Linked DNA regions of Homo sapiens. The protein of the gene in region 1 purifies or fractionates together with the protein of each later gene. This does not show direct contact. Each region holds a gene or a part of one and is shown in the gene's direction. Other genes may lie near its edges.

Region 1 (9,312 bases):
ATATTAAAAAGGCCTATAGGAAACTAGCCCTGCAGCTTCATCCCGACCGGAACCCTGATGATCCACAAGCCCAGGAGAAATTCCAGGATCTGGGTGCTGCTTATGAGGTGAGTTGGGAAAAGTGATAAAGTACGAATAAAATCTGTAGCTCTAGAAAAAACATACAATACAGAGAAACACTCCTTTCAGCTCACATTTATTTATTTATTTATTTATTTTGAGACTGAGTCTCTATTGCCTAGGCTGGAGTGCAGTGGTGCAATCTCCGCTCACTGCAACGTCCACCTCCTGGGTTCAAGCAGTTCTCCCGCCTCAGCCTCCCAAGTAGCTGGGATTACAGGTGCATGCCACCACACCTGGCTAATTTTTGTATTTTTAGTAGAGACAGGGTTTCACCCTGTTGGCCAGGCTAGTCTTGAACTTATTATAGATTAATAAGTAGATCAACTGATTGGTCTGTCGTTCAATCAGTTTGGGAGCTAGAACCAAAAATAAAAAGAAAGCCTTCATGAGAGTTGCAAACCTGCATGTTCATATGAACTAGACAAATAACATGCAGGGCAGGTATAAGTTAAAACATGGCAGCAGATATTCTGCCTCCATATTGGGAAGCAATAAGGATTGTTGAGGACTTTGACAAACTGAAGCCTTCTGGCCCCATTTCAAGGGAGCAGCTGTTACTCAACCCCAGCCAGTTTTTGTCATACAAATGCAAACAGTATGTTCCTGGATGATTTAATTTTTCAAGAAAAGTTGAAAATCTAGATTTTTTATATGAGTTCTGCTTGTAAAAGTGTTGGTAACTAATTCAGTTAAATTTCTTTTTTACATAAATCAAACAGAGCACAGTTTTAATTTGATTTTGCAACCTCTAATCTGGGGATCAAAACACTCTCATGTGTATCATCTCATTTAATCTTCACTAGGACACCAGGAAATATATTAGAGCTAGGCATATTTTTATTCTCATTTTCTAAATGGACACAGAAAAAAATTAATTGAACTAAAAGTCATAGAGCTAAAACTCCTGAATTTAAGTTTAAATTCTTGTATATTGAGAAGGCTAAAAACAAATTGAAAAATATTTTAGGAAGACACAAACCTTGAAAGGAAGGAATCCCAAGATCTCTAGATTAAAGAAGCAATGGAATTGAAACAGTGAGTTATACCCAGGTGAACCCAAGAGCTGTTGGGGTCCTTTCATCTTTCAACACCTTCAGGGATCCTATGGGGCAGAAATTCTTTTTTATTTTTTTTTGAGACAGAGTCTCGCTCTGTCTGCCAAGCTGGAGTAGAGTGGCACGATCTCGGCTCACTGCAAGCTCCGCCTCCTGGGTTTTACGCCATTCTCCTGCCTCAGCCTCCTGAGTAGCTGGGACTACAGCTGTGCACCACCATGCCCAGCTAATTTTTTGTATTTTTAGTAGAGACAGGGTTTCACTGTGTTACCCAGGATGGTCTCGATCTCCTGACCTCATGATCCACCCGCCTCGGCTTCCCAAAGTGCTGGGATTACAGGCATGAGCCACCGTGCCTGGCCAAGGGACAGAAATTCTTAACCTGAGGCACATCAATAAACTTGGGAAGGTTAATGGCCCATCCTAAATTATATGTAATATTTTGTTTCTTGTTGATAATATGCATTCTATATTTTGCACTGTATTTTCCATGAATAGTCCCCTTGTTTGCTAGGAACCTAATACTCAAAAACATTTTCTAGGGAAGCTGAATTTACCATGCTCTCTAAAGAATCTTCACGTTCTTTATCAATGACCTAGGCAGGCTATACAAAGGTCAGTCATGAAATCGTGGCTTATTTAACTATAACAATCCTTTTAGCCACTAGTTCAAATTTCTGTTTTCTTTTTATCATTCAAGCTTGATTGCCTTTAGTCTTAGGTAAATTAGTGTTCACAAATTAGAATCCGAGTACAGTTATGAAGAATCTTTTGTGAATACAAATTTGTTTTCTCTACAGAGCTAGGATCACTGCTGGCATTTTAATTACTTGAGAATCTGTGTATTGGTTGGCCAATCAACTAAAAACCTTTTTTCTTTTAAAATAGTTTCCAAGACCATAGAATAAAATTGCATTCCTTGATGGAAGAAAAGTGAGGAGGAAGTAAATGATAATGACTTCAAGAGTAGTTTTTAGGGGGTTATTACAGAAGCCTCTGATGTCTAAAAAGAAACTGACTTAAAACTAGTCTTTGGGGGTTTTGAAATGGTGTTTTTTATAGTCTCAAATGCAGGGTTCATTTATTTGTGAAGATCAGATCAGAGAAGTAGACTAAAAGTGAAAATATTGGAGATCCAGTTAATAATAAGGGTTTTTTTTTTTTTCAAGTTAATTGTGCCCATTTCTGCTTCCCCAAAGTACCTATTTTCTAAAGATACTTGTGAAAACATGCTTTCCTCTCCCTTTTTCTTTCATAGTGGCTGTAATCAAGTACTGTGGTCACTTCTGGAATAACCCATTTGCCTTTGCTTTTAAGAATGTTCACTCTCTTGTATACTCAATTTCTATTTATCCTTTCAAGGATATCTTAAATGTTAATACATTTTTGCCATGACTCCTTACACCTCATTTGGGCCCTAAGCCAAAAATGTGTCCTGTGTGAATATGCCTTTCTTTTAAGTCAACAAGCCCCGTCTACTTTGAACCTCTCTTTTTCTGGGCCACCATGAGTGTGGTTTTGAAATAACTCTCTCCTTCAGACTCTTGTCTAAGTAGGAGTTTATAAATATCAAAGGAAGATTTTAAAGCCATTTAATTTTCACAAGTATATATGTGCATATATATCAGATTGCTCTAAATAAAAGAGAAAGTTTTTTTTTGCATGTTGAAGGCAAATTTTGAAAAGGATGGAAGCTTATTTTGTTGTTACATTCTTTAATATACAGAGAGAAAGCATATAGTCATGATTGTGTATGTAGTTCTCTGAAACTTAAAACTTCAAGAATTATTTCAAGCAATGAAATTGACCTTGAATAACCTTCATAGAGTATTTTTACTTACTACTCTTTCTGCATTTCAAACTCAGGACATTACAAACTTAAACATATATATATATGGCAGGCAAAATTCTTCCACAAATGGATTTCTGCATATACCAAAAAATGAAAAAAGGAGGATGAAAAGATATCAGTGTAGGCCTCTCTGGAGGGCCTGTCATTTGATTTCCTTGACTTGACAATCTCCTAATACATGCGCGCGCGCGCGCGTGTGTGTGTGTGTGTGTGTGTGTCTGTGTGTGTGTGTTTTGGGTAGGGGGTGTTATAGACCTGTGGGGCCAAGTTGTTCTGAAGGCAGTATAGTGGTTAACAGCATAAGCACCAAAGTCAAACTGCATGGGAAGTAAACCTGAGGAATCCGTCTTAACTCTTTCCTGTCACCACCCTGACCTTCACAGCTGCATTGCTAATCTCAGGTATTATTTTTTAGTGACTACACGAGTTTTGAGAACTTTAAATTAAAAACATGAATGGAGCAATGTGGAATGAACAGTGCATCAAAGAATTTAGTCTTAGAGAAAATAACTTTGTAAATATGCCTTAATACAGTACATAATGGAAACTGCATTCTATTAAAATTTTAGACCCACTGTCAAAGTAAAAACAAACATAAATATGACTGTGCCTTAACTGGATATTACCAACTCATGATCTTTTCCTCCACTGGCTTTTATCCCCAGGTTCTGTCAGATAGTGAGAAACGGAAACAGTACGATACTTATGGTGAAGAAGGATTAAAAGATGGTCATCAGAGCTCCCATGGAGACATTTTTTCACAGTGAGTAATTTACCCATCTGCAAAGTGTTAGTGTCTGAGAGAGGGTCACTTAGCGATTAAAGAATTATTCTCATTCCCTAGTTCAGAAACTTTTGATGAACAGTACAATTTAGCTGATCCAAAGATCAATTATTGTCCTCCCTGTGGGAAGATAGTCTTCTATTTTCACAAAGCTTCAGGAAAGACTGATGGCACTGAAAGGACATTCCATCTAGCCAACCATATCAGTTAAATCAGTGCAGACAATTCACGGGGACATGTGTTGGAAATCAGTTCATCCTTGCCTACTTGCTACCTTGCAATCTGCAAACCACTTAATGAGCAAAATTATTGTTAGCAGAGATAGAAAAATTCCTGCTCCCATACCCAGAGCTGCCTCTCTTTCGTGCTATCAACAAGTGAGGGTGATTATAATAACCAGCATTAGGGGAAGGAATTAGGGTAGAGGACCTTTATCTCTTGCTTTCTGGGAGTGCTGGGTGGTTGGAATAATAAACACTTTCTTCCTCACTCTTTGAACCTCTCTTTATTGAGCATTTGAATTTCCACATTCCCTGATGATTACATATACTAAGAGACTTTAATCTGGGGTTTCAGGTCTGAAATTATAAACAAAAAGATGTTCGAATCTGCATTTTTATGGGGAGAGTTCATTGTTTTCTTCAGATTCTCAAAGGGTTCTGTGAACCCTTCCCCAAAAGAAGTAAGAATCACTGTTGCATATAGTAGTTACCACCATTTAGTGCTTGGTTGAGGGGCCTGGGGTGGGGGAGTAGATTTTTAGGGTCTGTAAAGATGTGTGAGTAACATGATTAGGACATCTTTTCCCCCCGCCAGGATCAATTTGGCTGGCTGAAGTGATCCCTAGGGAATACCAGAAAGAGAAACAGCTTCCCCAGCCCCCACCCTGTTCTTTCCCCTTGCCTTTATTTAAGATTCAGGGAATTCATTCACCTGAGTTGGTTGGTGGGAGAGGGAGTTATATAGTTATCATCTTCGCTATGCTAATATACAAGGCTTCTTAATAACACCAAAAATTAACATTAGATTAAACCACCTGTAGGATTGAAGGTCACCTTTTTTGTTAATCTCAAGTTACTCTTGTTACTTACAAAAATTAGTTTGGGTCTTATAGAGGCTAGAACTTCCTTCTCCTTAAGCACTAGGATTTTACTAAGGCTGATGCTTTTTTAGCTTATTTAATTACATACTCAAGATTTTTGTGTAGAGCAGTAGCTTCTTTCAACAAGTTAGCTTCTAAAAAGCATGTAAAGAGAACACTACATATGTTAAAATTACCGATAAAAATTTCTTAAATTAACCATTACATTTAGCATTACACAAGTTTATGTATACTATACTCTTTCTCAATAAGTCCACCATATTCAGATTTTTCCCAATATTGAAAGATTATTATTTCATTGGTTGGGTCCAACATTGAATTCATTGGCATACTGTGTGTGTATGTACTGTACTATATGTATGGGCTATATTTTGTTAAAAAGTGGATTTTTTTGTAGTAAGGGACCGTATAGTTACAACATGGTTGATAGTATATAAATTTAAAATTATGTATGATAGTTGACTCCATTGTATTAAAAAATACCTTGTAGTTTTGCACAATGCATTGATAGAAACAATAGTTTATCAACGTAAAGAAAATGAGTTAATTGTGAAACATAGAGTCTTGATTTTTTTTTTTTTCCTGATGATTTTGCACTTATCTTTAGCTTCTTTGGGGATTTTGGTTTCATGTTTGGAGGAACCCCTCGTCAGCAAGACAGAAATATTCCAAGAGGAAGTGATATTATTGTAGATCTAGAAGTCACTTTGGAAGAAGTATATGCAGGAAATTTTGTGGAAGTAAGTTCAAACAATATAGCTGTTCATATTGACTCCCAGAACTTGCACTTTTGACTAAAAATAAGAGGTTTATATGTACCTTCTCTGTCTTTTTGAGGGTAAGAGAGAGTGATCAAATGCACAAAATTGAATTAATTATAATGCTTGGTTCATGATACACTGATGTCATTGTTTTATCACCCAGCTTAAGAACTAAGTAAAACATTACCATGACTTAATCTACCTACATGCTACTTCCCTGTTCCATTACCCTGCCTCCCTTCAAAGGTAACTACTGTATTGAGTTATGTCTTTATTGTTCTTTTGCCATTCTTACTTTATCATGTATATATGAATACCTGAATAATATATTGTTTATTATATTGTTTTTGATTTTTTAGAAATGGTATTTTATTCATTATTTTCTGGGACTGGTTATTTTCACTCACTATTATGTTACTAGGATTCACCCTTGTTGCTTATTGCTATATTGTGACCATAATTTATTAATAGGCATTTTTGTTTCTTCCAGTTTTATTCAATTCCAAACAGCGCTTTTATGAACATTTTAATCCATATTTCCAGGTTCAGATGAACAAGAATATCTCTTGGGTGGATATGCTTGAGAGTAGAATTGCTGGGTAATATGAACCAATGTTCATTTTTACAAGTTAATACTGTATTGCTTTTGAAATTGATTGTACTGATGCTTCTACATGCAATTTATGAGATCCTATAGATTCACTGCCTCACTAATACTTGGAATTATTAGACTTCTTAATTTTTGCTCATCAAATGGGTATAAAATATCTCATTATGGTCTTGTTTTACATTTTTTAAATTACCAATTAGGATCAGCATCTCTTCCTGTGTTTATTGGCCATATTTGTTTCCTCTCTTGTGAAATGCCTGTTCTTTCTTTTGCCTCTTGCTTATTGATTTCTAAGAGTACTTCACTCTTGCTGCTAATTCTTTGTTGGCTGTATGTAATGCAGATATAGGCTATCTGTTTGTAACTTGTCTTTTCATTATGTTTAAGATTTATTTCAATTTTCAGCAAACAGAACTAATTAATGTAATTAAATCTATCAGTCTTTAATGGTTAGTTTTTGTGTCTTTTTAAAGAAATTCGTTTTTGTTCTAAAATAAGAAAGCAGCCATGTGCAGTGGAGCACACTTGTAATCTCAGCTACTCAGGAGGCTGAGGTAGGAGGATTGCTTGAGGCCAGGAGTTTGAGGCTATCATGTCCTGTGATTGCATCTGTGAATAGCCACTGCACTCTAGCCTGGACAACATAACTGAAACTCATCTCTGGAAAAAAATTTTAAAATAAAATAAGAAAGCTGTTCACCTATATTTTCTGCTAAAACTCTGGGATCTTTTAATATGAGGTTATTCATCTTTTTTAAATTCTGGAAAATATGTCTCATTATTTTTTACAATTCTATCACTCCTACTTCTGTCTGCTCTTAACTTTCTTTTAAATACAAAAAATAAATTTTCTTTATCCTTCACTGCTTCCTTCTGGGAGGTACCTCATTTTGATCTCCCAGCTTACTACTTCAGTCTTCAGCTATATCCATTCTAATAATAACCCATCTGCTGTGTTTTAATTTCAACTCATATTTTTATGCATAATATTTCTACTTGATTCTTGCATTATTTCTTACTCTATATCATTTTACTAATGCCTTCCCTCCTTAAGTATTATCATGCTTGTTTTAAGTTCCTGGTCTGTCTAATCTTTTTTTAAGCAAAGTACAGTTGCTTAAAATATATGTGTTATTCAGTTTGTTGTCTTTTGTGGGGCAGATGATAGACCTTCTCAGGTATCTAGCTGTCTTGGCCTTTGAGCTGATATTCCCTTACAGGTACCAGCAACTACCTTTCCCTGCAGAGCATCATGGGCTGAGCCCTGGCCCACTGGTTTTAACTGTGTTTTGTTTGGTGTCTTGGGGTGTTTTTTGTTTTGTTTGCTGTCTGGAGTCTTTTGTTTTCTGCAGTCATGGGAAACAGTTCAAAACAGCCCTCTATCTGTGGGATTTTCTCATATATTCTGTGCTGTAGTTACTGTTTCCTGGAATCCATGTTTTCTTGTAGTTTTTCCAGGATACTGGAGGAGACAGCCGGTAGCCTGTGCATATGTGCCATCTTGACAAGAAGCGTATTCTTCTTAGTTGTAGCTGCTTCTCTGAATAATTGAAAGAAGAGATATAGACAATCACAGAAGATGCAACTGACTTGTAATACTGTTGAGGCTGCAGGAGAAAAGGGCATTAAAAATATTCATAAACCAGTGAGGTTGTTTAGATGGGAGGAAAGAGGTGAGCCTAATTAGCGCCCATGTTCCCTTCCAAGCCTGTTCTGCAGTTGTCACTAATACACAGTAGACATCACTTTTTGCTGTTAGTGTGTTCCCGAACAAACTCTTTTTTAATCCAACTATTGTAAAGGCTGTAAATGGCTTTGCTGGTTCAGTAACCCCATGCTAAATTCTTTTTTTCCTTGTTTTCAATCCTGCTCCTTCTGTATGTAAATTATTTTTTAAAGAAAAAAAAATACCTTGAGAAATAGGATAGCACAATGGTTAAGGAGCATGGACTTTGCAGCTAGACTGCCTAGTTTAGAATCCTGGCTCTGCCATGTATTAGTCATGTGGCCTTGGTCATGTTACTTAACCTTTCTATACTTCTGTTACCTCACCTGTAAAATGGGGATAATAACAGTACCTGTCTCATAGAGTTGTGAGGGTTAAATGAATATGTAAAAGTGTTTGGCACATGGCTTGGCATGTAGTAAGTGCTATAAAATGTTTGCTCTGATTACTGTTATTGTTGCTATAATTTACTCTGTTGACCTGGGCCTTTCATATGTTGGTAGGCTTTAAAGGATTTTTCTCCAAGCATTCGTCATTCTGCTGCGTGAGCACATACCTTGTGATTAGATGTTTGACTATTTAAACAGGCAAAACTAGGAATACATTTCTGCATATATATCAATTTTACATTCTTAGAGGGATCAGAATGTTTGATTGCAGTCAACTACAAAGAGATGGTCATTGTTTCTCTTCCTACATGTTAAAGTATCTGAATGGAGATAGCTCCAGAAAATAGTCCTGGATTGCATTTCCTGAAATAAGGAGACATTTTCAGTAGGTTAACCAGAGGATTGGATAGTAGCCACATACCAGGTTTTGAAGGTAGTGATTGTTCCTCAGGGGTTATGCTTTACACAGCTCGGATTTCCTAAAAGATAATCATTACATGAAGTACTTTAACTCAGTAGCATTTAGTTGTGGCTTAGAAATGCTGATATCATACACTTTATTTTTCGGTTCTCTTGTTTCTTACTCCCGTCTCTACTTCTCCAGCTTTAGAATTTGAGTCATTTAAGTATGTGTTTGCTTCATTCCTGTTTGGGGGCTGATTTGTACTCTTCAAAGAGTTTTGTCAGCTTTAGATCTCTGAGGGATAGATTGCCAGAGAAGGGGAAGTTTCAGTCCAGGCATATGTGCAGAGCCTTGATCAATTGAGGAAAGGAAAGGCTGTTTTACACAAGAGAGAAGCTGATGTTGTTTATGCACTTCCTAGGTAGTTAGAAACAAACCTGTGGCAAGGCAGGCTCCTGGCAAACGGAAGTGCAATTGTCGGCAAGAGATGCGGACCACCCAGCTGGG
Region 2 (6,373 bases), on another chromosome or scaffold:
CTATCTTTATGATTTATGACTGTTGATGTGGACCTTGATTACCTGGCTGAAGTAGTGTTTGTTCGTTAGGTTTCTCCTGTAAAGTTATTCTTTTCATTTTCCCCCTTTCCATGCACTTTTTGGAAGAAAGTCACTATGTGCATTTCACTCTTACAGACTGGAGAGTTATACTCTGTCTACATTAGGGTGGAATATCTACATATTTTATTTGGGATTTTTCCATATTGGGGATTTGTCTCTTTTCCCCAATTTATTTATTTATTCAGTTATTTACATTAGTATAAACTTATGGATAGTTTATACTTCGTTATAATCTAATGCTACTATATTTTGTTGCTCAAATTGTTCCAACTTTGGCCATTGGGAATTCTTTCAGCTGGCTTTGTGTCCATTGGCAGTATCCCATTGTGTTTTTGTGTATATGTGCCTGCACTTTAAAGCACTTCTTTCCTTTCTGGCACCAAAAGATGCTCCAGGCTCATCTTGTTTATTTCTTGCTCCAGTACTAGAATCAGCTGTTTCTCCAAGGAGCTCTGCTTCCTTTTATTGGAGAATGATATTAAAACCAAGTTCTAGGCCTTATGTAAGCTTGTTGCTACTGGAGTGTTTCTTTTAGGCCCTCTCACTTGACAGAATAAATAACTGTAAGCCAGGCGCAGTGGCTCACACCTATAATCCCGGCACTTTGTGAGGCAGAGGTGGGTGGATCACAAGGTCAGGAGTTCGAGACCAGCCTGGCTAACATGGTGAAACCCCGTATCTACTAAAGTACAAAAATTAGCTGGGCATGGTGGCGGGAGCCTGTGATCCCAGCTACTTGGGAGGCCGAGGTAGGAGAATCGTTTGAACCTGGGAGGCGGAGGTTGCAGTGAGCCGAGATTGCACCATTGCATTCCAGCCTGGGTGACAGGGCGAGACTCTGTCTCAAAAAAAAATTAAAAAAATAAAGAATTGTTACCTGTGTGTGCTTACTCGTGTATATATTACATATCTATAAATTTTTATTTGCATAGCCATCTGTATCTACATATATTAAGTTAAATGAGCTTTCTTTTTCTTTTTCTTTTTTTTTTAAGATGGGTTCTTGCTGTGTTATTCAGGCTGGAGTGCAGTGGCTACTCACAGGTGTGATGATAGTGCACTAGAGCCTCGAACTCCTTGGCTCAAGCAGTCCTCTTGCGTCAGCCTTCCAAGTAGCTGGGGATACAGGCATGCCCCACTGTGCCTGGCTAGTGTTCTTATTGATGTCTTTAGCTGTAATCCATTACCACATAGATCGTCCTAGCCTCCTCCCTGTGCTAATTTGTAAATTCCCACTCCAACAGTAAGATACCTTGTTCCTACCATCTGCCATCCATGTATTGAACTTCAGTTCAGTTCCAGTATACAAATATAGCAGTATCAGAATTACATACTGGTACCCTCCTGGGAACAATTTTATCAAGTAGAGTGTACACACACACACACACACACACTTCTGAAATAATCAGTAATTTTTTAATTGCCATCGTATAGAAACTGAATATTTGGCCTTAAGGAAGATGGGATTTAGATGAGGAGTAGAATATAGAGAACTTGCTTTCTCTCTCACTGCCTTATTAGAAAGAAAGAAAAGAATGTAGAAAACTTGCTATGTTTTGCTCAGTTAATATTTGCTATCTCATTTAATTCTCACAGTTGCTCTGTAAGGTGATATTGTGATCATTTTATAGAGGAGAAAACAAAGGCTCAAAGGATTTACAGAAGAAGGGATCAAGTTGAGATTCAAGGTCAGCCTGACTCCCAGAGTCCATTCCCTTTTGAACTTGTCATCAGGTCATTTAAAATCTAGTTAAGAGAATGAAGCAGTAATATTTAAAGTCAAATAACAAGAGATATAAAGTATTTTAAGGGCAGAATGTGGTGGCTCATGCCTGTACTCCCAGCACTTTACTACGCTGAGGTAGGTGGATCACTTGAGGCTGGGAGTTTGAGACCAGCCTGGTCAACATGGTGAAACCCCCATCTCTATTAAAAAATACCAAAATTAGCTGGGTGTGGTAGCACATGCCTGTAATCCCAGCTATTCTGGAGGCTGAGGCATGAGAACCCAAGAGGTGGAGGTTGCAGAGAGCCGAGATTGTGCCATTGCACTCCAGCCTGGGCGACAGAGCGAGATGCTGTCTCAAAAAAGTAAAGTATTTTAAAGCCAGCACGGTGGCTCACACCTGTAATCCCAGCACCCTAAAAGACCAAGTGGGGAGAATCGTTTAAGTCCAGGAGTTAGAGGCCAGCCAAGGCAACACAGTTGCCTACCAAAAAACTTTTAATTACCTGGGTGTGGTGGTATATGCCTGTTGTCTTAGCTACTCAGGAGGTGAGGCCATAAGACCACTTGAGGCACTGCACTCCAGCCTGGGCAACAGAGCAAGATACCCTAACTGTTTTTTTTTTTTTTTTTTTTTTTTTTTTGAGACAAAGTCTCACTCTTGTCATCCAGGCTGGAGTCCAGTGGTGCAATCTCGGCTCACTGCAACCTTCGGCTCACGGCAACCTCCGCCTCCCAGGTTCAAGCGATTCTCCTGCTTCAGCCTCCCGAATAGCTGGGATTACAGGCGCCTGCCACCACACCTGGCTAATTTTTGTATTTTTAGTAGAGATGGGGTTTTACCATGTTGGCCAGGCTGGTCTTGAACTCCTGACCTCAGGCGATCTGCCCGCCTCGCCCTCCCAAATTACTGGGATTACAGGCATGAGCTACCGTACCTGGCCACAATCCCAACTCTTAAAAAGAAAAAAAAAAGAAATTCTGTTTTAACACTGTAATAGAAAATATAAGGCAATTATAGTATTAATTGCAAAATAAGTGTTTGGACCATAATCTTTTTTTTTTCCTTTCTTTTTGATGCCATGACTCAGATAAGAACCATGGACCATAATCTTATAGCAATGAATTTTTTTCCTCCTATGTCCTTTATGTCTTTCGTCTTTTTCCATGGTTCATGGTTTAAACAACACTGGAGTGGCCGGGCACGGTGGCTCATGCCTGTAATCCCAGCACTTTGGGAGGCTGAGGCGGGAGGATCACCTGAGGTTGGGAATTCGAAACCAGCCTGACCAACATGGAGAAACCCTGTCTCTACTAAAAATACAAAATTAGCCGGGCATGGTGGCACATGCCTGTAATCCCAGCTACTAGGGAGGCTGAGGCAGGAAAATCACTTGAACCTGGGAGGCGGAGGTTGTGGTGAGCCGAGATTGCGCCATTGCACTCCAGCCTGGGCAACAAGAGCGATACTCTGTCTCAAAATAAATAAATAAATAAATAAATAAAATAACAACACTGGAAAGCAGCTGAATTTTTTTTTTTTTTTTGAGATGGGGTCTTGCTCTGTAATCCAAGCTGGAGTGCAGTGGTATGATCACAGCTCATTGCAGCCTTGATCCCCTGGACTTAGGTGATAGCTGTAGTAGCTGGGTACCATAGGCATGTGCCACCATGCCCAGCTAATTTCTTTTTTTTTTTTCTTTTTTTTTTTTTGAGACAGAGTTTTGCTCTTGTTGCCCAGGCTGGAGTGCAATGGTGTGATCTCGGCTCACCGCAACCTCCGCCTCCCGGGTTCAAGCGATTCTCCTGCCTCAGCCTCCCGAGTAGCTGGGATTACAGGCATGTGCCACCACACCCAGCTAATTTTGTATTTTTAGTAGAGACAGGGTTTCTCCATGTCGGTCAGGCTGGTCTTGAACTCCTGACCTCAGCTAATTTCTTTTGTATTTTTTTTAGGGATAGCGTTTCACCATGTTGCCCAGGCTGGTCTCAAACTCTTGGGCTCAAGTGATCTGCCCTGCTCAGCTTCCCAAAGTGGTAGGATTACAGGCATAAGCCTGGCCCCTCTGATTTTTTACTTCAAGGTGGCCTTCTTTTTCTTCCCATTGCCTCCCACCCCTTTTCAAGCCCTTGTCAGCCATGCTGATGTTACTACCTTCTGTATTTTCTAGGAAGTGAGTGCTTTTGGTGAGGAAGGTGAAGGTGATTATCTGGATGACTGGACAGTGCTCTGTAATGGACCCTACTGGGTGAGAGATGGTGAGGTGCGGTTCAAACACTCTTCCACTGAGGTACTGCTGTCTGTCACAGGAGAACAATATGGTCGACCTATCAGTGGGCAAAAAGAGGTGCATGGCATGGCCCAGCCAAGTCAGAACAACTACTGGAAAGCCATGGAAGGCATCTTCATGAAGCCCAGTGAGTTGTTGAAGGCAGAAGCCCACCATGCAGAGCTGTGAATCTAGAGGCTCTGAGCCACTGTTAACGCACAATGTTCACAGACATCTGTTGCTGCCTCACCTTGGGATCCCTGCCACAAGTTCCTTGGGCAGTGGCCATGTCACCATTGAGATGAAGATATACAACAGAAAATAGTGGCTGTGTTTGGAAGCTTCAGCCCTGCACATTTGAACTAGTCACTCTCCCAGACTTGCGTGGGTCAGTTCTTTCTGAGTAGAGGACTTGCTGGTAAAGGGGCAGATGCTTTTTATTAGTACTGATAAAACAAACTGAGGGAAACATCCCTCTTAGCTGGGAAACTTTTACTCTTCAGGAGCTTGGCATCATGGACTGTTAATGTATGTGATTTTCCCCCTATTTTCTCTCTCCAAAATGATAAAAACAATAATTTTATTATGAGTCACTGTGTTGTTATTTATTAGGTGTGCTATTTCATTAGCTGCTTAATCCTTTGAGTCCTAAGACTCTTTGGAGACGCTATGAAGCTCCAATGTGGGCCCTTTTAAGAGCTTTTCTTGCATACAAACCTTTTCTCCCTCTACTTTGACTTCTCTCCAGGCATCTCATCTTTAATAGATCTTTGACTAATTATAGCTAAAAACTCTCAGAGAATACAGCATAATAAATAGCCAGTGAAATGTTTGCTTTGTATCTGTTACTGCAGATGAGAAAAAGGTGTAGGGGTAGAAAGAACGAACCAGTATTTATTCACTGCTAAATACTAGGTACCATATTATAGATCTTTTTTTTTATTTATTGTTTTTTAGACAGAGTCTCGGTCTGTCGCCCAGGCTGGAGTGCAGTGGCGCGATCTCGGCTCACTGCAAGTTCCACCTCCTGGGTTCACAACCATCCTCCTGCCTCAGCCTCCCAAGTAGCCGGTGCTACAGGCACCCGCCACCACGCCAGGGTAATTTTTTTGTATTTTTAGTAGAGACAGGGTTTCACTGTATTAACTAGGATGGTCTCGATCTCCTGACCTCATGATCCGCCCGCCTCAGCCTCCCAAAGTGCTGAGATTACAGGCGTGAGCCACCGCACCCGGCCTATAGATCTTACCTCATTTAATCTTCACAGAATTCATATAGGGTAATACTGCATTTTTATCAGTGCAGCAGTTGAGTAACTGCCTGAATTCTTTTTTTTTTTTTTTTTTGAGACAAGTTCTTTGCTCTGTCACCTAGGTGGGAGGGGCACAATCATGGCTTATTACAGCCTTGACCTCCTGGGCTCAAGTTGATCCTCCTGTGTCAGTTTTTGATTTATCGTAGAGATGAGGTCTCACTATGTTACCCAGGCTGGTCTGGAACTCCTGGGCTCAAGTGATCCTTATGCTGTGTCTTCCCAAAGTGCTGGGGATTACAGGAGTGAGCCACCATGCCTGGCCTACTGCCTGAATTCTTTTTTTTTTTTTTTTAAGATGGAGTCTCACTCTGTCGCCCAGACTGGAGTGCAGTGGTGCAATCTCGGCTCACTGCAACCTCCGCCTCCCAGGTTCAAGTGATTCCCCTGCCTCAGCCTCCTGAGTAGCTGGGACTACAGGCACCCGCCACCACACCTGACTAATTTTTGTATTTTTAGTAGAGATGGGGTTTCACCATATTGGCCAGGCTGGTCTTGAACTCCTGACCTTTTGTGATCCGCCCACCTTGGCCTCCCAAAGTGCTGGGAAAACAGGTGTGAGCCACCGTGCCCGGCCTGAATTCTTAAAACTAATAAATCATTTTGGAATAGGAATCCAGCTGTTTCTGACTCAGGTTTTTTTAAGTGCACTACGATTGTGTTTAGCTTTTGGAAAACAAATCCTGTTTTTTGGACAAACGTAGATATATCTCTCTAAAAAGGTGGATAGAAAACTACTTTTGTCCTCTGCCTACCTGATTTCCTCCTTTCCTGTGTCAATTGCAGAAAATTTGCTCCTGTAGCTTCCAATCATGGTATTGGTGAACGGAGATGGCTGCCATCTGCTGGAATTTCAGTGACTAGCAGGCTTTTTTTATTTTTAGAAACTTCCGGGTTTTGTTCTTTTTTTTTCTATTTGTTTTGTTAATGTTGAACATTTAGAGACACCATTTCTGTGCCAAACATGGCCCGTGACGTTAAAAG

Evidence for each region. The genes of interacting proteins can lie anywhere in the genome.
Region 2: the proteins of DNAJB11 (region 1) and SDF2 purify together in Homo sapiens (affinity purification with mass spectrometry; 5 studies listed by BioGRID and IntAct, with this or other methods). This does not show direct contact.

The regions. Positions count from the first base shown.
Region 1 is NC_000003.12:186,572,145-186,581,456, forward strand, and holds part of DNAJB11 (dnaJ homolog subfamily B member 11 isoform 1 precursor), read left to right. Parts: coding exon 1-107; intron 108-3,695; coding exon 3,696-3,793; intron 3,794-5,523; coding exon 5,524-5,656; intron 5,657-5,840; exon of another isoform or gene 5,841-5,923; intron 5,924-9,226; coding exon 9,227-9,312. UniProt on the Homo sapiens protein: As a co-chaperone for HSPA5 it is required for proper folding, trafficking or degradation of proteins.
Region 2 is NC_000017.11:28,646,882-28,653,254, reverse strand, and holds the end of SDF2 (stromal cell-derived factor 2 precursor), read left to right. Parts: intron 1-1,712; coding exon of another isoform or gene 1,713-1,769; intron 1,770-3,978; coding exon 3,979-4,266; 3' UTR 4,267-4,909; downstream 4,910-6,373.